3 linked regions of the Homo sapiens genome follow. The protein of the gene in region 3 interacts with the protein of the main gene of each other region in a biochemical or structural test. Each region holds a gene or a part of one and is shown on either strand. Other genes may lie near its edges.

Evidence for each region. Proteins that work in one complex are often made in the same cells at the same time.
Region 1: the proteins of RNF4 (region 3) and SUMO1 form a complex in vitro, tested with the Homo sapiens proteins (5 studies listed by BioGRID, with this or other methods).
Region 2: the proteins of RNF4 (region 3) and UBE2D1 form a complex in vitro, tested with the Homo sapiens proteins (12 studies listed by BioGRID).

The regions. Positions count from the first base shown.
Region 1 is NC_000002.12:202,207,598-202,215,143, reverse strand, and holds part of SUMO1 (small ubiquitin-related modifier 1 isoform a precursor), read left to right. Parts: intron 1-709; coding exon 710-787; intron 788-4,337; coding exon 4,338-4,409; intron 4,410-7,141; coding exon of another isoform or gene 7,142-7,276; intron 7,277-7,546. UniProt on the Homo sapiens protein: Ubiquitin-like protein that can be covalently attached to proteins as a monomer or a lysine-linked polymer.
Region 2 is NC_000010.11:58,358,460-58,366,005, forward strand, and holds part of UBE2D1 (ubiquitin-conjugating enzyme E2 D1), read left to right. Parts: intron 1-2,878; coding exon 2,879-2,942; intron 2,943-3,035; coding exon 3,036-3,067; intron 3,068-5,149; coding exon 5,150-5,227; intron 5,228-6,311; coding exon 6,312-6,417; intron 6,418-7,546.
Region 3 is NC_000004.12:2,464,307-2,472,544, reverse strand, and holds the start of RNF4 (E3 ubiquitin-protein ligase RNF4), read right to left. Parts: upstream 3,440-8,238; 5' UTR 3,287-3,439; intron 3,093-3,286; exon of another isoform or gene 2,503-3,092; intron 1,559-2,502; exon of another isoform or gene 1,436-1,558; intron 1-1,435. UniProt on the Homo sapiens protein: E3 ubiquitin-protein ligase which binds polysumoylated chains covalently attached to proteins and mediates 'Lys-6'-, 'Lys-11'-, 'Lys-48'- and 'Lys-63'-linked polyubiquitination of those substrates and their subsequent targeting to the proteasome for degradation.

The sequences.
Region 1 (7,546 bases), on a different chromosome or scaffold from region 3:
CAATTCTTCTGCCTCAGCCTCCTGAGTAGCTGGGACTACAGGTGTGTGCCACCATGCCTGGCTAATTTTTGTATTTTTAGTAGAGACGGGGTTTCACTATACTGGCCAGGCTGGTCTTGAACTCCTGACCTTGTGATCCGCCTGCCTTGGTCTCCCAAATTGCTGGGATTACAGGCATGAGCCACTGCGCTCAGCCCCATGTGGTGATTTTTTATGGCAGGAATAAATTTCTCAGTCGCTTATTGTATAAAATTGAATTTTATACAATTAATTATTATCTAATTAACTGCTTTTCTCCTAGGCGACCACCTTCAGTGACACTTCACTTGGGGGGACAGACTTTTTGTTTTGAGTTGCTATTGGGATAAATAAAAGATGCGATAGTTCATCTTTTATTTTGACAATAGAATGGCAAATGAAGGAATGCATTTACTTAGACTTTTACTTATACTGATAATTTTAACACTCAAGACTGATTAACTTTGTTTTACTCGGTTTCTTTTGTAATGGGTATACAGTAACTTTGAGGATGATTACACTGTTTTAAGAAAACCTGTTAAGAATGCTAAAAAGAATATTGTGGTGGAAAAATACAGGTTACAAGGTTTATGTTTCTATTTGCACTATATGTGTAATTAAATAGTTTGGTTCAAGTAAAGCAAATGATTTATACAAAGAGGGATAATTTTTTTCTTTTTTATCTCCTTAGGATAGCAGTGAGATTCACTTCAAAGTGAAAATGACAACACATCTCAAGAAACTCAAAGAATCATACTGTCAAAGACAGGTTCGTCCATTTTGGTATTAAGTACAATGCTTTGTCGTTAATTTTTTTTTTTTTATAGAAGATTGTCAGAAGAAAAATCCTGTTTTATTATTTTCACCATTAGCAACTCAAGGAAAACACTCTATCATTTCTTGTACCCTGCTTAACTGCTTTTTTTGTCTTGTGGCCCATTTTAAAGTTTGAATTCGTAAGATGGGAACTAGTTTGAAAAGTAACTCAGAATTGTAAAAGCGAGCTCAAATGAATGTTTCTGTCTTGATGGCTTACCAGTATATATAGCAAAAAAGGCAAGTAATTTTTTGGTGATTACTATGGATTGTTTTTGTACTTCTAATCATGAGTGTTTAGCCATATGTTAAATTTAAGTAGTAGTATTATTAGTATATTATCTCTCTTTTTTTTTTTTTTTGAGATGGAGTTTGCTCTTGCTGCCCAGGCTGGAGTGCAGTGGCACGATCTCTGCTCACTGCAACCTCCGCCTCCCAAGTTCAAGTGATTCTCCTGCCTCAGCCTCCCGAGTAGCTGGGATTACAGGCATGCACTACCACGCCCAGCTAATTTTGTATTTTTAGTAGAGATGGGGTTTCTCCATGTTGGTCAGGCTGGTCTCGAACTCCCGACCTCAGGTGATCTGCCCACCTCGGCCTCCCAAAGTGCTGGGATTACAGGCGTGAGCCACCAGGCCTGGCCTTATAAAATAGGTTTTGAAAATAAATGTAATTGGAATTAATATGAGACAACCAAGATATAGTTTAAGTGAAATTATGATTTAATAAGCAAGAAATATATGTTTAATCAGTCTTAAATTAAATTATAGGCTGGGTGCAGTGGCTCATGCCTGTAATCCCAGCACTTTGGGAGGCTGAGGCGGGCGGATCACCTGAGGGCAGGAGTTCAAGACCAGCCTGGCCAACATGGCAAAACCTTGTCTCTACTAAAAGTACAAAAATTAGCCAGGCATGGTGGCGCATGCCTGTAATTCCCAGCTAGTCGGGAGGCTGAGGCAGGAGAATCACTTGAATCTGGGAGGCAGAGGTTGCAGTGAGCTGAGATCATGCCACTGCACTTCAGCCTGGGTGACAGAGCAAGACTCCATCTCAAAAAAAAAAAAGAAAAAAGAAAAAAAAGAAAAAAAATTGAATTATATTACATAATATTAACTCAGGTATTGTAAATTTTATTTTCATTTATTTATTTATTTCTTTGAGATGGAGTCTTCACTCTGTCGCCCAGGCTGGAATGCAGTGGTGTGATCTCAGGTCACTGCAACCTGTGACTCCCTGGTTCAAGCGATTCTCCTGCCTCAGTCTCCCGAGTAGCTGGGATTACAGGCATGCACCACCACGCCCGGCTAATTTTTGTATTTTTAGTAGTGGCGGGGTTTCACTATGTTGGTCAGGCTGGTCTCGAACTCCTGACCTTGTGATCCGCCCGCCTTGGCCTCCCAAAGTGCTGGGATTACAGGCATAAGCCACCGTGCCCGGCCTGTAGATTTCATTTTTAGAAGGTTTGCTTTTAACAGTTTAAATTTGTAACTCACATTAAAAAAAACTTATTATAAGAAAGAGAAACTAGGTGTTAGGATAAGTAAAACAATAAGCATTTTTGTCTCTTCTGTTTTTGTAGATTTTAATTGTTTAACTTAATAAAATCACATTAATTGGGGTTCAACTACTTCACATTTGTAATAACTTTGGGTGTTAAAATTGAGATGAAATTCATCAGGGGAAAGAAACATTTATTGAAATCTCAATTATGTGTACTGTGCCATAGGTATTTAAGATACATTATTGGCCAGGCACAGTGGCTCACGCCTCTAATCCCAGCACTTTGGGAGGCTGAGGCAGGCGGATCATGAGGTCAGGAGTTCGAGACCAGCCTGACCAACATGGTGAAACCCCTGTCTCTACTAAAAATACAAAAATTAGCTAGGCATGGTGGTGCACGCCTGTAATCCCAGCTACTCGGGAGGCAGAGGCAGAAGAATCGTTTGAACCCAGGAGGCGGAGGTTGCAATGAGCCGAGATCACGCCATTGCACTCCAGCCTGGGTGGCAGAGTGGGACACTGTCTCAAAAAAAAAAAAAAAAAAAGATTCATCGTCATTTAATTTTCATAACTCTGAAGAAAATTCATATAGTCTCTACGCCCCCCATCTGTAGGCCAGGGAATTGATTTTTTTTTTTTTTTTTTTTTTGAGACAGAGTCTCACTCTGTCGCCTAGGCTGGAGTGCAGTGGTGCCGTCTTAGCTCACTGCAACCTCCACCTCCTGGACTCAAGTGATTCCCAATGCCTCAGTCTCCCGAGTAGCTGGGATTACAGGCACCTGCCACCAGGCCTGGCTAATTTTTGTATTTTTTTTTGTATTTGTATTTGTATTTTTTTTTTTAGACAGGGTGTTCCTCTGTTGCCCAGGTTGGAGTGCAGTGACACGACCTTGGCTCACTGCAACCTCCACCTCCCGGGTTCAAGTGATTCTCCTGTCTCAGCCTCCCGAGTAGCTGGGATTACAGGCGCGTGCCACCTCGCCAGGCTAATTTTTGTATTTTTGGTAGAGATGGGGTTTCACCATGTTGGCCAGGCTGGTCTTGAACTCCTGACCTCTAGTGACCCACCCGCCTCGGCCTCCCAAAGTGCTGGGGTTACAGGCTGAATCACTGCGCCTGCCCCGTAATTTTTGTATTTTTAGTAGAGATGGAGTTTCATTATGTTGGCCAGGCTGGTCTCAAACTCCTGACCTCAAGTGAGCCGTCTCTCCCCTTTCAGCTGTTTTTGTTGAAGAGTGATTAGAAAAATGTATACTAATATATTTTGTAATATTTATGGTGCTATCTGTGCCATCCAGGTTTATGGTAGATGAGCTAGCTAGCCATTTGCGCTTTACCAGATTTTATGATAATGTTGGCCAGGCTGGTCTCAAACTCCTGACCTCAAGTGAGCCGTCTCCCCTTTCAGCTATTTTTGTTGAAGAGTGATTAGAAAAATGTATACTAATATATTTTGTAATATTGCGCTATCTATGCCATCCAGGTTTATGGTAGATTAGCTAGCTAGCCATTTGTGCTTTACCAAATTTTATGATGTAATCTGTTTAAAACCAATTTCGCCAGTATAGTTGGAAGCTAGTGAGGGTGCACGTCCAGTTTCTGATCTGATCTTTTATTCTAGCTTACAGATTTAGGGCAAAGTGAATCGAGTAGTGGTCAAGAGCATAGGCTTAGAAACAGGTTTGGGCTTAAATTCTTGGCTAGCTCCAAGCCTTAGGTTCCCTAGCTGTAACATGAAGATAAGGTGGTAATACCTACCTTCCAGGGTTGTTGTGTTTAACACTTATGATTATGTATGTAAAGAATTGGTACAGGGAGGGCCTTGCAAATAGTTGCTACTCAGTACAGTATATAGTATTTATGATTGAATTAGCTTGTCTAATTTTATTTTCTATGTAGTGTTCTAAGGCTTTCATGCTTGCTTTTTGTGCATCAAAGTTACCATTATGTTTTCTAATATTTGTGTGTGTATGTATGCATTATTATTATCTTTACCTTTTTAGGGTGTTCCAATGAATTCACTCAGGTTTCTCTTTGAGGGTCAGAGAATTGCTGATAATCATACTCCAAAAGAAGTGAGTATACTTTTCTCCTGAGTCAAGAAAAAATTTAAATTCTCCTTTGAGCAGTTTGGTTCACTGGTGTTAAAACTGCCCTTTTCTTGAATATTCTCTGATTTAAATGGCATATCATTTGTTGGAGAGAAGAAATAATGTTTTGGGTTGAACTTCCCCTATAGTGCCTTTAAAAGTGCCAATAAAAAGGGTGGTAGAAACAAAATGAGTACTGAAATTGTCATAGGTCACATGCTACATCCTTTTTGAAGATAGACAAATGTTCCTCAAATTTGGTAAATTTCTGGTATACTTTCATGGTGATGGTAACATTAATGGCTGGATTTTCATTTTTGACCTATTTTGAGAATGTTAATACAGAAGCATAGTGTATATTAATATATTTGGCTCTGTCATCTTGTTTTACCCTATTTTTTTATGCTTCTCTGTCTTCATTTGATTTTTTTATTCTATGAGCAGTTTGCTTTGCTTTTATATTCCACCCATCTTCCCTCTATAGAGATATCTCAAAGTAGTGTGTGTGTGTGTGTATGTGTGTGTGTATCTATATACATAGATTCCCTTCATACACAGAGTAACATTACTGATATTTCTGATAGTGGGAACAATATAGGGTTATTAACTTTTTATTTTGAAAATATTTCAAACTTACTGAATTGTGAGAATAGTGTAATACTCTCCTGTATAACTATTCCTTAGATTCACCAATTAAAATTGCACAGCATGTGGGCCAGGCACGGTGGCTCATACTTGTAATCCTAGCACTTTGGGAGGCCAAAGTGGGTGGATTGCTTGAGTCCTGGAGTTCAAGACCAGCCTGGGCAACATGACGAAAACCCGTCTCTACTAAAAATAAAAAAATTTGGCCAGGTGCAGTGGCTTATGCCTGTAATCCCAGCACTTTGGGAGGCCGAGGTGGGCGGATCACGAGGTCAGGAGTTCGAGACCAGCCTGGCCAGTATGGTGAAACCCCGTCTCTACTAAAAATACAAAAATTAGCCGGGCGTGGTGGCATGTGCCTGTAGTCCCAGCTACTCGGGAGTCTGAGGCAGAAGAATCGCTTGAACCCGGGAGGCAGAGGTTGCAGTGAGCCGAGATTACGCCACTGCACTCCAGCCTGGGCAACAGAGCGAGACTCTGTCTCAAAAAAAAAGAAAAAAAGAATTAACTAGGCTTAGTGGTGCATGTTTGTAGTCCCAGCTACTTGGGGGGCTGAGGTGGAAGGATCACTTGAGCCCAGGAGGTCGAGGCTGCAGTGAGCCCTGGTCATGTCACTGTGCTCCAGCCTAGGTGACAGAGTGAGAACCTGTCTCAAAAATAAAGTAAATAAAATAAAATAACATTGTGCAGCATTTGATAGCTGGGATTGGTGGTGCACGCCTATAGTCCTAGCTGCTTGGGAGGCTGAAGCGGGAGGATCACTTGAGTGAGCCCAAAAGTTCGAGACGAGCCTGGATAACAGAGCGAGGAGTCCCCTGTCTCAAAAAAAAAAAAATATTATGTTTTTCTAGTATGACTACTAGAATGCAGTCATAGCTCACTGCAGCCACAAATGCCTGGGCTCTAGCAATCCTATCACTATCAGCCTCCTGAATAGCTGGGATTACAGGCATGTGCCACCATGCTCTGCTTTTAAATTTTTTGTAGAGATGGAGTCTCCCTATGTGCCCAGGCTTTGATCACTTAGTTTAAGTGTTGTCTCTTTTTTTTTTTTTTTTTTTTTACTTTGTAGTTAACTGTTTTTCCTGTTACAATTAAGTAATTTGAGGGGACACACTTTGAAACTATGCGAATATCCCCTTTCTCATCAAATATTCCCCTTAGGTTTAGTGTCCACCACCTTCTTGAACACTTCCTTACTTTCTGGCACAGTAAGAAGTTCCAAACTCATCTTTTACTTTCCTTTAACTTGGCATAATCTCTGGGACCATACAGTAGATATCTAATACATTTTACTGACACATGCCTTACACATTCCTTGTAATTAAGAGATTATTTTTTCAGAGGAATGTTGGTGCAGTGGGAGACAGTAGGTCTTTAGGGAGTGACCCTCCTGTGCTGTTGTTCACTTGTCTCTGTTAATGTACTTCTTGAAGTTTGTAGCTTTATATTCTTTATAGCTCAAGGACTCATGCTGTCTTCCTGTTTTGAAGGTTTCTAATAACACTTGGAATTTTATTCCTTGCAGTATTTACCATGCTATATGGGCAATTAAAATTGTTTTAAAAGCATCTTTTTTTTTTTTTTTTTGAGATGGAGTTTTGCTCTTGTTGCCCAGGCTGGAGTGCAATGGCACAATCTTGGCTCACCGCAACCTCTGCCTCCCGGGTTCAAGCGATTCTCCTGCCTCAGCCTCCTGAGTAGCTGGGATTACAGGCATGCACCACCACGCCTGGCTAATTTTGTATTTTTAGTAGAGACGGGGTTTCACCATGTTGGTCAGGCTGGTCTCGAACTCCCGACCTCAGGTGATCTGCCGCCCCCCCAGCCTCCTAAAGTGCTGAGATTACAGGTGTGACCCACTGCACCTGGCCTAAAAGCATGTTTAATAATTATTTAAATATTCAAATATGTTCCACAACCAAGATAGCTTAACACTACTAGAGCCATTCTGATCACTTTAAAATCCTAAATTCACATGTGTTATGTTTAGATTTCTTAACATACTTTATTTTCATATTTAAAATTCTGCACAAAAATGTTACCTATAAAATTTAAAACTTTTTGGTCAGGCACAGTGGCCCACGCCTGCAATCCTAGCACTTTGGGAGGCTGAGGCGGGCTGGATCACTGCAGGTCAGGAGTTGAGACCAGCCTGGGCAACATGGCGAAACCTCATCTCTACTAAAAATAGAAAAAGTAGCCAGGTATGGTAGCGCACGCTTGTAGTGCTAGCTACTTGGGAGGCTGAGCTGGGAGGATTGGTTGAGCCCAGGATGCTGAGGTTGCAGTGAGCTGAGGTTGAGCCCAGGAGGCTGAGGTTGCAGTGAGCTGAGATTGTGCCACTGTACTCCAGCCTGGGCAATATAATGAGACCCTGTCTCAAAAAACAAAAACAAACAAACACCAAATTAGATATATCCTATTAAACTATCACTTAAACTATTAAATACATGTTTCATTAGATTTAAAAGTTC
Region 2 (7,546 bases), on a different chromosome or scaffold from region 3:
TTTTAATAATTGTATTCTGCTGCTAGAGAATTGGAAGGCTGTCAGTTCCCTTTATTTGAATGCTTACTATGTGCCAGAGACTGTGCTGTACACTTGACATGTATCATTTCACTTGGTTGTCATAGAAACTGTGGATGGAGGTAGTGCCACTTGAAAACTGAGCTTTGGAGAGAGAAAAAAAGATTTTTCCCAAGATCATGTGGGAAGTGAGTGGTGGCACCCAGACTTGAACTTCAAAGCCTTGCTGCTTTTACCCAGCATAGTTAAGTCAAAGTCTGAAATCTGTTTCCTTATTGCTTTTTCTTTTTCTTTTTTTTTTTAAATGCGGTCTTGCTCTGTCACCCAGGCTGGAGTGCAGAGGCCCAATCATAGTTTACTGCAGCCTCGAACTCCTGGGTTCAGGCGACCCTCCTGCCTCAGCCTCCCAAGTAATTGGAATTACAGGCATGAATCAGCCTGCTTGGTCCGTTATTGCTTAACTGTAACATGGACCAAAGAAGCAGCTAACCCTGTTAGTTAATTCTTACTAGGAAGAGAAACCGCACCAGCTATTTAAAAAAAAAAAAAAAAAAAGCAAAACAAAAATGAAAATACCAAGGTATACTGGAAAATAACATTGAGCTTAGAAGGAGACCTGAGTTTGTACCTGGCTCAGTCACCCAGCTCATTTATCACTTTCTTAGGAAGGCCTTTCCCTGTCACACCCTCCTTCTTGTTTGTCTCTATTAGAGCACTGAACTCATTGCCATAATTACCTTATTGCAGTGATTCTAAGGTGGACATCTTTCACATTTTAACTTTTCTAAAGTGTGGATGCATTTTACAATTGATGGTGTTTTAAAATAAATTGGCAGCATTTTTTCTTAATTATTGGTACTTAAAATAAGGATGTGCTGTACAGTTGATGACATCTTAGATTTGATTAAGTGCATATTTATTTTTGTGTGTTCCCACAAAAATGTTTACATCATTCTCATGGTTTTAAATATCAGATATATGCAATGATTTTCCAATTTCTATCCTTTTTTAAGGTCCACCCCTGTATGTTGAACCACATTGTTTCTTCATATCACAAGGATTACAGATTCAACATATCTACTCTCCAAATCAGTTTGTCTTCTATTGTTCTCTATCTCAGTGAATGGCATCCACATTCGTACATTTGTGGAACTAAAACATGAGATGATCGCCCACCTGGGTTTGAATCCCAGTTCCGCCCTATAGTAGTTACTCAAGCATGCAGTGAAGTATGTCACCTTAACTATTCACTTGTAAAATGGGGAACATAATAACACCTATCTCTGAGGATTGTTAGAATGACTAAGACATTGAATAAATGTTAGCTGTCCCTAATCTTCATCATACATATCTATGACTTCTCTCCTTCCTCTGCACATGTAATTCATCAACTCCTGTGATAGATAGGCCCTTCAGAGTATCTCACATCTACCACTTCTATCTTGTTGCCACTTCTCCAATCTAAGCCCCCATTTTTCTTGCCTATGCAGCAACTAATATTGTAGCTTCTCCTCTTTCCCATGTCTAATCCAGTCACAACCATCCATTAAATCAGAACATGCCACTTCTTAAGACCTCCCTCACCCCCTACCTAATGCATTTGGTATAAAACACCACATCATTAATGTGGTCTGTATGGTTGTCTGTTTCCTGCCTGGCTTCTGCCCACATTTCCAGCCTCATCCTCTGCCACTCTGCCTCCCAGTATCACTCTTTTCCTCCAAAAGTAACTCCTACTCATCCTTTAGATTTCAGCTTAAATGTCACTTCCTCAGAGATGATTATTGATCTTCCAAACTAAATTAAGTTCTTCAGTTATAGTCCTTTATATTGAATGTATGCCTTTCTTCTTTGGGATGATCAGTTTCTCCCAAACTGTGGCTAAAGAAGTGAAGTAACTTCCACAAGGCCAAAGAGTGAGATCTATTAGAACTGGAATTCTCTCTGTTAGAGGAAAAAAAAAAATCCAAAAAAGAGAAAAGAAGAAAAATGGAAAGAACTGGAATTACAACCCAGGGGCGGGGTGAACTCTAAAGCTGTGTCCTTTCTGTGATCTTTGCTGCCTTGAGGGCAGGAAACAGGGTATGAATCAATGTTCTAAGTTTCAAAACATGGCCTGACTGCTGCTCGTTTATTTCCCATTTCAAGTTGTCCTTAAATGAGCTGGGTGCAGTGGCTCATGCCTGTAATTCAATACTTTGGGAGGCCGAGGCAGGTGGATCACTTGAGCACAGGAGTTGGAGAACAACCTGTTCAACATGGCGAGACCCCATCTCTACAAATAAAATTAGCCGGGTGTGCTGGCACATGCCTGTAGTGCCAGCTACTCGGGGTAGGAGTGGGGGCCTGAGGTGGGAGGATCGCTTAGGCCCAGGAGGTTGAGGCTGCAGTGAGCTTTCGTGCCACTGCACTCCATCCTGGGCGACAAAGTGAGATCCTGTCTCAAAAAAAAAAAAAAAGTTATCCTGAAGTATTATTCTTTCTGAGCCTTCATGCTCCCTCAATAGATTGTAACCTGTTAAAATAGTACCTGTTTTCTGATATATTATCAACCTAGCATTTACATAAATTATCTTACATACAGTAGGTACTCATTAAATAGTTTTTCTCTTAGGGATGTTAAAGAAAAACAGTATTTTTTTTCCATTTAATCTTTTCAAGGTCTGAAGCTGTCTCATGGAGGAATTGAGTACCTTATTCTTTCTACCAGTCAATGACAGAGTACAATTTATGTTTTTATATTTTGAATAGAACTGCTTTAAATGTTTTTAAAGCTAATAGTTTGCATCTTAATGGATCATTACCCTTGTTTCATTGGGAAAAGAAGGAATTAACCTTACATATTTTTGATTTCCTTCAGGAATTGAGTGATCTACAGCGCGATCCACCTGCTCACTGTTCAGCTGGACCTGTGGGAGATGACTGTAAGCCTTGCTCTATTTCTGGGATTATGCTACCTTTAAAAATATAGGTTTGAACATTTGTTAATGACTCCAAAACTCCTTTGTTTGTTTCAGTGTTCCACTGGCAAGCCACTATTATGGGGCCTGTAAGTATGATTCATATCTATGAAATTAACCCCCTCAGCCATACTTCATTCTTGCCATTTCACCTTTGATCAGATGTTTGTGATGAAGGTTGAATATTCTTGTACTTTGAATCACCTAGGAAGCAAAATATTATTAAGGATTTACAATGATTTTCCAAAGCATTGGTGGCAAATATTTCCTGGGATCACTATTATGTTTTCCTTTGCTGAATCCTAGATCATTACACATAATGGAGTGCCACAGCTCGCAACCAGGCTGTGTGTTTATCTTTTTTTTTTTTTTTTTTAAGTCACAGAGAGTTAGTTGTAATTAACCATAATCATTCTCACATCCACAGTTTTGGTAGGTTAGAAATTAGTCTAATGAAGCCAATAATTGAATTCCTACAAGTAACAAGTGTCAGTTTGCCATAAGTTTCATCACTGTTCTTTTTTGTGAAAGAGAATCAATAAAATATTACAATGGGTCTGTCTTTACCTCCTTATAAATTTGCTGCTTTTAATTTTGTTGCATTGTCCTAAACACAAAATTATCTGCTGTTTGATAATTGGCTACTCTCAATACTTATTACTTTTGTTAAAATTATTTCTTTCAATACTTTAGAGGCAGTTACAAGACTTGAAACAGGCTTTTTCTTTCTATGAGCAAAAAATCTGATTGCATAAGAATGAGCACTGACAGCTCAAATCTACTTTCTGGGTGAGAGTACATAAGTAACATGTTTCCATGAACACCATTCTCTTCTCCCTGCCCTGAAAGAGCTTTATCTAGTGAGTTACAGAGTTTTTAATCATACGACCTTGTGTTTAACTTTAAAAAACACCAAAACTACTGAATTTCAAAGCAGTACTCTGGGCAGTTGTCTCAAATTATTGTTTTATTAAGTTTGTTTTTCTAAAAAGGCAAAATACAATGTATTTATATAACAACTTTCAATAAGAATCCATTTATTTCTGTTTGTTTTTAATTAGTTACTAAGAACCTTCAAAATACTCTCATTTAAAGGCCCACCCTTACCTTTTGAATTATGGCCTTTCACAAATATTTTTTAGGTGAATCACATGTAACAAATGGTTATAATCATGTTATTCATAACTCCCTTACTTTAGTAATGTAAATATTTACAGTACTCTGGACCATATCTGTCATTGTAATTTATCTTCATTTTCTATATTTCTTACAATTTTTGATAAACTAGAATTGTTTAAACAATATATATAGTAAGAATTATTATACAGGAAAATCCTCTAGCATATATGTGGAAACTTAACGAGAAAGTAATGAGTCTTGGTGTTATTACCAGAATGCTAATATAACATGATATATTTAATTAAATATGAAAGAATTAAAATAGAATTGTAGGTATAGTTTGCTAGCATTTTCTTTTTTTAAAATTTTTTTGCTTGTAATGTTATATTTTCTAATGGCTATAAAGAAACATGGTCAAATTTAAATTTCTCTAGTAAAGTTGATTCCCAATTTGATAGTAGCATGAATATATAATTTTGTTTTGGATTTTTTTGGGTTCTCTACATTATTTTATAAATAATTACTAAACGAAGATTTGGCACATAAATTGTGTAGCAGGGTCCTTAGCATTTTCTTTTCACGACAGCCTCTTCAGTTCATCTCCATTCTTGGTCATCAAGTGAACATCAGAACTTAAGTTTTACTATCCTCAACCCTTTTTCAAAAAAAATACTGATTACGGCTGCAGAAAATGATCTTTTCCCACAGCAGTCGTGTGTATACTGATCTTTAACAATTTGTACTCATAACCAGATTTGTTTGGACAAGTCACAGCACTGTGTGTGTCCTGTTTTTGTTTTGTTTTAAATTTTATGATGTCGGCATAGTTGTTGGAAAATCCTCCTTCGTACCTGCAGAGAAACCTGTTCTCAAAGTAAATGATTTGAACTTATGACAAAATGGTTGCATTTTTTTCATATTGGTAATATTTAATGAAATTATTTTAAACATGATGGCATTTTTTTCAAACTGATAATATTTGGGGGAAATAATTTTGTTGTTATAAATAAATATAGTAATCAAATGCTGATGCAAATCTTTTGTAATTTCAGCCTGATAGCGCATATCAAGGTGGAGTCTTCTTTCTCACTGTACATTTTCCGACAGATTATCCTTTTAAACCACCAAAGGTATTTTTATTTTTATGATTGATGTGACTCCCATGTAAGAGATTTTATTCTTTATCTAGAGCTCATTTGATTATCTAGAGCTCATTTGATATGTCAAAGACTGTGGGGAGGTTAGCATTTTCAAACTGTTTTGTAAAAACTACTGAATCTAAAATCTGATTTCTTATTGAAATACTGTATTAAGTCTATAAAACAAAAGTCAGTACGTGTCATGCTATAAATTAAATTCCTTGCTTTTCTTTTCCTTCTTATTGGATATGTGTAGTTTGGGACGTTTTTATGATTAAGAGTCAGACTTTTCTATTCATGGGATTATCCTTACAAAGTTGATCATTCTTTCTCTGTTTTTTTTTTTTAAGTATTCAATAAACATTCACCGAGTACCTACTGTGTTCTTCTACACTGGGGAATCCGAAAGTAAATATGAAGCAGTCCCTTAATTTAGTATGGTAGGAGAGAGAAACACATGTTAGATTTAGATTTGCTCTAAAGAGGAAACAAATGATGGGGATATCAGGGAGGGGAAAAGTGGGCAGATTTTGTCACTCAGGATATAATTATTTTAAATAGTTAAAAACAGATTAACATTGTATTTATGAAATGGTATGACAACTCTTGTGGAAAATTAGGATTCTTAATGGATTTCTTAGCTGAGACGCCTCAACTTTGCCCTGAAACAGCGTCAGCACCCTGGTTTTAGATCCAAATGTTACTTCCAGGTATCACCAATAATCAAATTAAGAAAAGGATTACTTCTACATATGATGGAAGCCATGGTTAATTACTTTAGATGCTGCTCAACCAGTCATACCGGCTACTAGAGACTTATTTATTACACTGTCCAAAATACTCTTCAGTTCCTTTGAGGGCAAAAGAAGGAAGCTGACTTGTTTGTGTTCACATTCTCACTAGCTAGAACTGTGTGTAGCACAAAGTAGATAATTATTTGATTTGTGTTGATGACTTTTCTCCTCTAAAGTTATGTAAAGTTGAGGATATTTTACCCTAGAGCAAATTGGTTCTGTTTTATTCATAGTTGATTCAAAGGTGATTGTCATATTTTGTTGTTTTGTTTTATGTTTAGATTGCTTTCACAACAAAAATTTACCATCCAAACATAAACAGTAATGGAAGTATTTGTCTCGATATTCTGAGGTCACAATGGTCACCAGCTCTGACTGTATCAAAAGGTAATTTCATTGATCAGGTTTGAAACAGTTGATAACAGTGAGACAGGAAAAATACAGCAGAATTACCTATGGACTAAAGTTTTAAAACAACAATCAACTGTGCTTTCTCCTGTTTTGATTTTGTTTTGCTCTCTTTGCTCTTATGTTACTATGGCTTTTGGCAGTTAGCTTTGGTTGAGGGGAGTGTGGATGGACAAATCTAAATGATGAAATGAGAAAAAACCTTAAAATATCAGAGCTAGAAATTTGGGGATAAACCTATTGATATTTTATCCTTTTAGCTTGGGTGTTGTCTTTTAAAAAAGAGAGAGTGCCCGGGCACTGTGGCTCATGCCTGTTATTCTAACACTTTGGAAGGCTGAAGTGGAGGATTGCTTGAGCCCGAGTTCGAGACCGGCCTGGGCAACATAGGAGACCCCATCTCTGCAAAAGAAGAGAGAGAATAAGAGATAGTAAAAGGAAGATTTTGGGACTGGTTGTCCCATTCATTAAATGGAAATGTTGACAATAATAAAGCTTTACAGCTGTTTTACTTCATCCAAGAATAAAATACCAGATTTGATTGATAAATGATTTAAGATGAAAGACATTTCACACTGTAGGATAATGCAGTACATATAGCATGTTAGTCTAAACTTCGAATAATCAGTAGCATCATTATAGTGACTGACACAAGATCTGTGCTGATTCTCAACTTTTACAGGGGTATAGCTGTTCTTTGCTGGATTATCAGGTGTATACATAGGCATCTCAAGCCATTTTATTTCATTAGCCACTGCTACTTACTGTGCTAGCACTCTTAATTTATGTCTTGTTTCTCTGAAAGAAGAGAACCTGACAGTTGGAAAATACTGTTTAGGTTAGAAGTAGCTGCACTGAAGCAACCATCAAGTTTTCCGTTTTTATAAAATTGAAGAAAATGTTTCTCTTGAAGGGATTTATGGAAGCAATCTGTACTCATTTTTTATTTTTAATAATTGCTACTTGAATATACAGCATGTTTTTAAAAGTAATAAGGTTTATAGGAAGCAGGGTCCACAGCCGTAGCTCTTTCAAATATTAGATAAATAATAGCTCTTTCAGTTCAATTATTTATGAACGATAGTTTTTCTGACCTAAGATGCTCATC
Region 3 (8,238 bases):
CCTGAGCTCAAGCGATCCACCAGCTTTGGCCTCCCGAAGTGCTGCGAGTACAGGCATGAGCCACTGTGCTCAGCCTCAAGATGCATTTCTTAAGTAAGATTTGAGAGTTGAAATTACTCCTTGATCCATGGGCTGCAGAACAGATGTTAACATTAATCTTACTCATCTCCATGAGACCTCTTTGGTGACTAAGCACATTCTCAATGAGCAGTAATATTTTGAAAGAAATCTTTTTTTCTGAGCTGTAGATCTCAATAGTGGGCTTAAAATATTCAGTAAAACATACTGTAAACAGATATGCTACTATACAGGCTTTCCTGTTTCAATGATCAGCACACAGTAGATTTTTGCATACTTCTTAAGGGCCCTAGGATTTTCAGAATGGTAAATGAGCACTAGTTACAACTTAAGTCACTGGCCACACTAGCCCCTAACAAGAGAATCAGACTGTCCTTTGAAGCCAGGCATTGACCTTTCTCTAGCTATGAAAGTCCTAGATAGTATTTTTTTTTCCATATAAGGCTGTTTCATTTACATTGAAAGTCTGTTGTTTAGTGTGGCCACCTTCATCAATTATTTTAGCTATATGTTCTGCATAACTTGCTGCAGCTTCTTCATCAACACTTACTGCCTCACCTTACACTTTTACATTACAGAGGTGGCTTCTTCCCTTAAACCTCATGAACTAACCTCTGCCAGTTTCAAACTTTTCTTCTGCAGCTTCCTCACTCTTCACAGAATTGAAGAGAGTTAGTACCTTGCTCCGGATTAGGCTTTCGCTTAAGGGAATGTCATGGATGGTTTGATCTTCTATCCAGACCACTAAAACTTTCTCCCTATCAGCAATAAGGCTGTTTGGCTTATCATTCATGTATTCATTGGAGTAGCATTTTAATTTCAAGAACTCTTCCTCTGCATTCACAACTTGGCTAACTGTCATTCAGCACAAGAGGCCTAGCTTTTGGCCTATCTCAACTTTTGATACGCCTTTCTCACTAAGGATAAACATTTCTTAACTTCACTTAAAGTAAGAGAGATTCAACTGACTGCTCCTTTTGCCTGGACACTGTAGGGTCACTGACTGGCCTAATTTCAATATTGTGTCTCAAGGAATTGAGAGGCCTGAGGAGAGAGACTGGGAACTGCCAGTCAGTGGAGCTGTTAGTACACACCCAACTTTTACCAATTAAGTTCACTGTCTTATATGAGTGCTATTCATGGTAACCCAAAACATTGATCACAGGTCACTATAACAGATGTAACAATGAAAAGGTTTGGGGCTGGGCATGGTGGCTCATGCCTGTAATCCCAGCACTTTGGGAGGCCGAGGCAGGCGGATCACTTGAGGTCAGGCGTTCGAGACCAGCCTGGCCAATATGGTGAAACCCCGTCTCCACTAAAAATACAAAAATTAACTGGGTGTGGTAGTACATGCCTGTAATCCCAGCTACTCCGGAGGCTGAGGCAGGAGAATCACTTGAGCCCAGATGGCAGAGGTTACAGTGAGACCGAGAACACGCCAGTGCACTGCATCCTGGGTGACAGAGTGAGATTCCACCTCAAAAAAAAAAAAAAAAAAAAAGTGTGAAATATTGTGAATTACCCAAACGTGACACAAGAGACACAAAGTGAGCACATGCTGTTGGAAAAATGGCTGGCATTTACAGACTTGCTCGATGAATCCTTGCTATAAACCTTCACCTTGCAAAAAAAAAAAGGCAGTATTTGCAAAACACAATAAAATGAGTTATCTCTTATTCCCTCCATCCTCACCCAGCTACAGGAGGACCACGACTGTTTACTGCTGTATTCCAAGCAGAAAGGTTGGCATACAGGAGACCTCAAAAATACGCTACTTTGATCTTGAGGAGAGTGAAAAATCTTACTCATTTTATGTACAAAGCACAGATGTGCATACATTATATAAAAAGAAATAGTTTACGTATGGCATTAAGATTTCATGAAGATTAGAAAAACAATGTTTACAAAAGGTCCTTACAAAGGTAGTAATTCAAGAAAAGATCAATAAACGATGTGTTAAAGTAAGATTTTTGGAAGCTCAAATTCAGGCAATACAAAAGCCAGCAATATATCTTGCTACTCGAATGCCTCTATTTCACCTCAAACTCACAGATAAAACTGAACCCAATATGTCCTTGTCCATTAAAAAGCAAATCACCAAGAAAGTAACAAAAGATTCCCTTCAATGTCTCTTTTATTGACAGTGGTCCCAAAACTCCTGGTCAATGAATTCAAAACCCAAATCTTGCAGGTAGGACTTAACCTCATCTGCTGCCAAATAGCTGGCTATGTGACCTTGGGCAGACCACTTCACTTTTCTGGACCTCAGTCTCCCCAGTCAGTTGGACAGTCTAAGCCAGGCTCCAGAGCTGAGACCCTACGTCTGGCTCAAGAACTTGGTGCAGAAACAGAACGAAGATTATTAAGTTTGTGAACGTCTATGGGAACTGACAAGTGAAAGACAAAAGCTGAAATCCCTACCAAAACGGCTTGCCCAAGCTCTATCCTTTTCCCTCTTCCCTCGATGGATCAAAGGCGGAAAAGCGGTGTTTACTAGCAACTCTGTTTCGGGTCGTGAGAATCTTCATACACCTGTCTATAGGCGCGCCAGAGCGGTGAAGGGCCCGAGCGGTGCAGGGCTGGGCCGCAAGCCTCACAGTCGCACGTTCCACCAACCACCAGCCGGGGCCCGGAAGCGCGCCCGGAAATCGAGGCCCTACTAAGTTTTAGACTGCGACCTCGGCGCCCCCACGGTCAGGCCCGCACCCGTACTCAGATCCTCCCGACCTACAAAAGGCCCCGCCACGCGGCCCACGCACCCCGGCAAACTCGCAGGCCCCACGATGGCGGGGCGGCGGCGCGAACACACAAAGGAGGCGTCGTCAGCGGGGAACAAAAACCCTGCCCGGGTCTTCCCCCTAACAGCACATCCTGCCCGACTTTCCAAGTGACCTTGGGGGCGTTCCTGCCCCTCCCAGAGTCTCAGTTTCCCTTCCTAGGCTAGGAACTAAGCCCCATGGCCGCGGCCCCCCAGGGTGAGCCGAGACCCAGACGCAGACCTCCTAACTTCTGTTGCCCGCGCCAAGCCGGGCTCGGTGCGCCCGCGCGGACGGCAGTGCGAGCGACCAGAGCTGGCTCGAGGTCCCGGGCTGCAAAGCCTCGGCTGGGTCAAGCCGCGCAGCGCGGCTCCCCCAAGAGGCGCGGGCCGAGGCCTCTGTAGGCCGCGAAGCTGCCTAAACCTCGCATCTGCAAGGCCCTGACTTACCGCTGCTTTCCCGCAAAGCTCGGCCTAACCTGGAGCTAGTTAGGTCCGCAGGCGCCACCGCCGGCGCACTCCGGAGAAGAAGCTCCTTCTTCAGCCGCCCAGGAGAGCTCCTCGAGAAAGATGCCGCCGCCTCAACAGCAACCCACTTCCGCTTCGGAGGCCTCGGCTCCGCCCCCCATCATGTCCCCATTGGCCGCCCGCCTACTCTACTTCCGCGGTCGGCCGGGTAAGGACAAATTTTTTAATCCTATTGGATAAGAAAACCATCTGTTACCACTTTAAAACGCGCCTCTTTCCGCCCCCGCCCACAATCGAGCGCACTAACTCGCACCTTCCGGCAAGAGACGGCGCGGGCGCGCCCCGCCCGCAAGGTTTTTCGGGAGTCACGGTCTGAGGGCGACCCGGGCGACCCGGTCGCCCGTGCCCGGCTGCCACTGACCGCTCCAACGCCGCCAGGGACGACCCGCCAGCTGCCTCCGGAGCCGAGCAGGCCCCGAACCTTCCCATTCCTAGATTTCCAGCCGCACAACAGCCGCGGTGCCCCTGGCTCGACGCAGCTGGCCGGAGGCGCGGAGCTGGTCGTTCGTCCCGCCCGCCGTTCCGCGCCCCTCTCCCGGCTCTTGTTTCCTCGCCTCTTAACGAGGCCTTTGTGAGGAAGGTTGCTGGGCCTTGGGACTCTGACGATCGGCTGGAAACCAGGCCTGGCCCTGTTTCAGCATCCCCGCGTGCCAAGCCCTGGGCCGGCGTGCGGGTCCCTGCCCCTGCGAGGAAGCTGGGACTTTTGCAGGCCTGGGTGGAGACGTGTACATAACAGAGGAAGAGTGTGGAGGATTGGAGGACTCAGGGCAGCACGGCAGAGGTGCATGCAGGTCCCCGGTCGGACTGGAGAATGGGCGGTGGGTTTCTTGAGCTCCAGTCCCTGAGCTCGACTTTGACGTGGGTTTAGCAACCAGGAAAAAAGCCCACCTTGTCCCTGCTGCCTGAGAATACCCAGACCTTAGTCCATGGCCAGCATCTCTGGTCCCTCGGCACCCTCAGGCAACGTGAAGGTCACCCCAAATGCCTTGGGTTACATTGTTTCCTTACAGTGAGTTTGTTTGTTTTAGTGGCGCGATCTCGGCTCACTGCAAGCTCTAACCTCCTGGGTTCACGTGATTCTCCTGCCTCAGCCTCCCGAATAGCTGGGATTACAGGCGCCTGCCACCACGCCCGGCTAATTTTCTTTGTATTTTTAGTAGAGATGGAGTTCCATCATGTTGGCCAGGCTGGTCTCGAGCTCCTGACCTCAGGTGATCCACCCTCCTTGGCCTCCAAAAGTGCTGGGATTACTGGTGTGAGCCACCTCGCCCGGCCACCTTACAGTGAGTTTCTAACCTCGAAAATGGAGTCAAATAACGGAATGACAAGGCAGATAGAAACCAGAGCATTAACGTTTTTGTGTTGCATTTACAAACAATATGTGTTTGCTATTTTTCGTAATTGTAAGGAAATCTGGCATGGTAGAGTATCTGATAGATAAATGTAATTCTCATGTAAAATATCTAAGTATTTGTGTTTTTTGTTTGTTTGTTTGTTTGTTTTGAGACGGAGTCTCGCTCTGTCGCCCAGGCTGGAGTGCAGTGGCGCGATCTCGGCTCACTGCAAGCTCCGCATCCCGGGTTCACGCCATTCTCCTGCCTCAGCCTCCCAAGTAGCTGGGACTACAGGCGCCCGCCACCACGCCTGGCTAATTTTTTTTTTTTTGTATTTTTTAGTAGAGACGGGGTTTCACCGTGTTAGCCAGGATGGTCTTGATCTCCTGACCTCGTGATCCACCCGCCTCGGCCTCCCAAAGTGCTGGGATTACAGGCGTGGGCCACCGCACCCAGTCTTTTTTTTTTTTTTTTTTTTTGAGACGAGGTGTCACTCTGTCAGCCAGGCTGGAGTGCAGTGGCACAATCATGACTCACTCACTGCAGCCTCGACCTCCCCAGGTTTAGATGATCAACCCACCTTGGCCTCCTGAGTAGCTGGGACCACAGGTGTGTGCCACCATGCCTGGCTAATTTTTTTGTATTTTTTTTTTGTAGACACTGGCTTTCGCCATGTTGCCCAGTCTTGTCTTGAAGCCCCGGGCTCAAGTTATCTGCTCACCTCGACCTCCCAAAGTGTTGAGATTACAGGCATGAGCCATCACACCCTGCCCTAAGTATTTGATTTTTGATAGCGACTGTAAGTTGAAAGGTATAACATTTTCCGAAGTTTGTGATTATAATTGGAGCAAAGAGAACTTAAAAGTTTAAAAGAAATGAAGACATTTAATATATCTATGAGAATTATTTAAATATTAATACTTGATAAGGCAGACAACTGAAATGCTAAAAAATAAAATTAGATTCTACGTGTATAAATGCAGTTGAAAATGTTTAAGAGAATTTCAGTTCATAAATGGGGCCGTACATGATTAATCAAAATGGTGGTTAAAAATGATCAGATTTAGGGCGGGCATGGTGGCTCTCACCTGTAATCTTAACACTTTCGGAGGCTGAGGTGGGAGGATTGCTTGAGCTGAGGAGTTTATAGATGAGCCTGGGTAACGTGGTAAAACCCCCTCTCCACACACACACACACAAATAATAATTAGCCGGGTGTGGTGGCATGTCCCTGTGGTCCCAGCTACTCAGGAGGCTGAGGCAGCAGGATTACTTGAGCCCAGGAGGTCATGGCTGCAGTAAGCTGTGATTGCACGTCAGCTTGATTGACAGAATGAGACCCTCTCTCTCTCAAAAAAAAAAAATCAGATTTAGAAAAAGTAATATTAGTAATTTGTATTTTACAGCCTAAGGAAAAGTTAGGGTTTTCTGTTTGTAACTGTAATATATTGAAGATGTGATGTTGAAAAAGTCTCTATAAATACCAGTTTCATGCTCAAAGACTGCCTTCAGCCAGGGCAACATAGTGAGACCTCATCTCTACTAAAAATAAAAAATTAGCTGGGTATGGTGGTAAGTGCATGCAGTCCCAGCTAGTAGGGAGGATGAGGCAAGAGGATCACTTGAGCCCGGGAGTTTAAGGCTGTATGAGCTATCATCACGTCACTGCACTCCAGCCTGGGTGACAAAGCGAGACCCTGCCTCAAAAACAAAAACAAAAGCTGCTTTCAAGTCTTCTCCAAGCCTCACTTGCACTGAACTTGTTCCTTCACAAATAGCGCTTCCCTTGGGCCCTGAACGCCTGCAGCTTAGAGAAAAGACCGGCACCTTGGTGCTCCCATAGTCCCACAAGTCGAAACCAGCTGAATGCAGGTTCCTGGGCCTCACACCAGCTACTAAATCTGTTTCTTCACTATTTCCAAAGAAAGCCCCTGCCCAAGTGGGTCTCAGATGCTATCAACAAGGATCTTCTGACTAGCCTGTACTCAGGCAAAATGTCCACTCCCCAGGCAGTCCAGCCAGGAAAGGTTCAGAGAGGGATTGTCAGCACTAGCTGGGCCATATCTCACTCTGGCTGGCCCCCTTTGGGGGAGTAGCTTGATTCTCTGTAAAGAGCCTATGCAGGGAGGGAAGGCAGGGGCCCCTAGTGTGAAGGCCCTGGGCTCTTAAGGGTGTGCCCCTTAGCTGCCTGTGCAGGGAGGGGAGGCAGGGGCCCCCAGTGTGAAGGCCCTGGGCTCTTAAGGGTGTGCCCCTTAGCTGCCTGTGCAGGGAGGGGAGGCAGGGGCCCCCAGTGTGAAGGCCCTGGGCTCTTAAGGGTGTGCCCCTTAGCTGTTGCTCTGGAACAAACCACCCCAAAGCTTGATACTTTGAATGACAGACATTTATTGTTGCTCATGAATCTATAAGACAGCAGGGTTGGGGGAGGTTCTTGTCCGGCTGCGCTCTCATTTTGTGCTCTGCTAGTCTAGGATGGCCTCTGAGATGGTGTCCTCCACATGGTGTCTGATCCCAGCAGGCCACCCTAGTCATGCTCACATGGGGCCTGGCGAAGGTTCCAAGAGAACAAGTGGGAGCTCCAAGGCCACCTGAGGCCCAGACTCAGAACTGGCACGTGGTCACTTCTGTTGCACCCTATTAGCCAAAGAAAGTCACTAGGCCAGACCAGATGCAAGGGCTGGGGGAATAGACTCCACCTCTCGATGGGAGGTGTAAAGTCACAAGGCAAGGGGCAGGGATACACAGACATTTTGCCATCACTCTATCACACAATGCCTACTCCCAGGCCACAACTTTAGGGAATGGTCCGAGGCCTGCTCCCACCTAGGTTTGTATGAGGAGAGGCCCCACGTGCTCTCAAGCTAGCTCTAAGCGGCTGCTCAGTCCAGGAGGGGGCAGGGGAAGACCTTGTTACCTGCCAACCAACAGTGTTGCCAATAGTACCCTCAATTTGTTAGCTGCCACATCTCCCCTCTGCTCCAGAGGCCAACCTTCTAGGTGAAGGGTAATTCCCCTGCCTTGCCACAGTGCTTGCTTCAGGCACCCATGCAGACCTTCCCTCACTGCAGGAACTGGCTCAGCCCAAGTATGTTCAATTCAGGCCAATGAGACTGGGGCAACTGTTCTTTGTTCCTCAGGCTGGAACTGCTACCAGAGTGGAGACTGAGCTCCTGGATCGGGTACATCCTGAAGTCTGCTGCCTTTGGATTGGCATTATGAGAGCTAATAAATCCCCCTTTGAAACCCCCAGAGCTCAGAGGGGCTTTCTAGGCCAGGCATCATCAATGTATTCCATCAATATCAAATTAAATGGGTTTGGATCACACAACACGGGATATGAGCAATGTTTATTTCTTTTTTTTTGAGATGGAGTTTGACTCTTGTCACCAGGCTGGAGTGGTGCGATCTCAGCTCACTGCAACCTCCGTCTCCTGGGTTCAAGCGACTCCATTCTCTTGCCTCAGCTTCCCGAGTAACTGGGATTACAGGCGCCAGCCACTACGCCCAGCTAATTTTTGTATTTTTAGTAGCGACGGGGTTTCA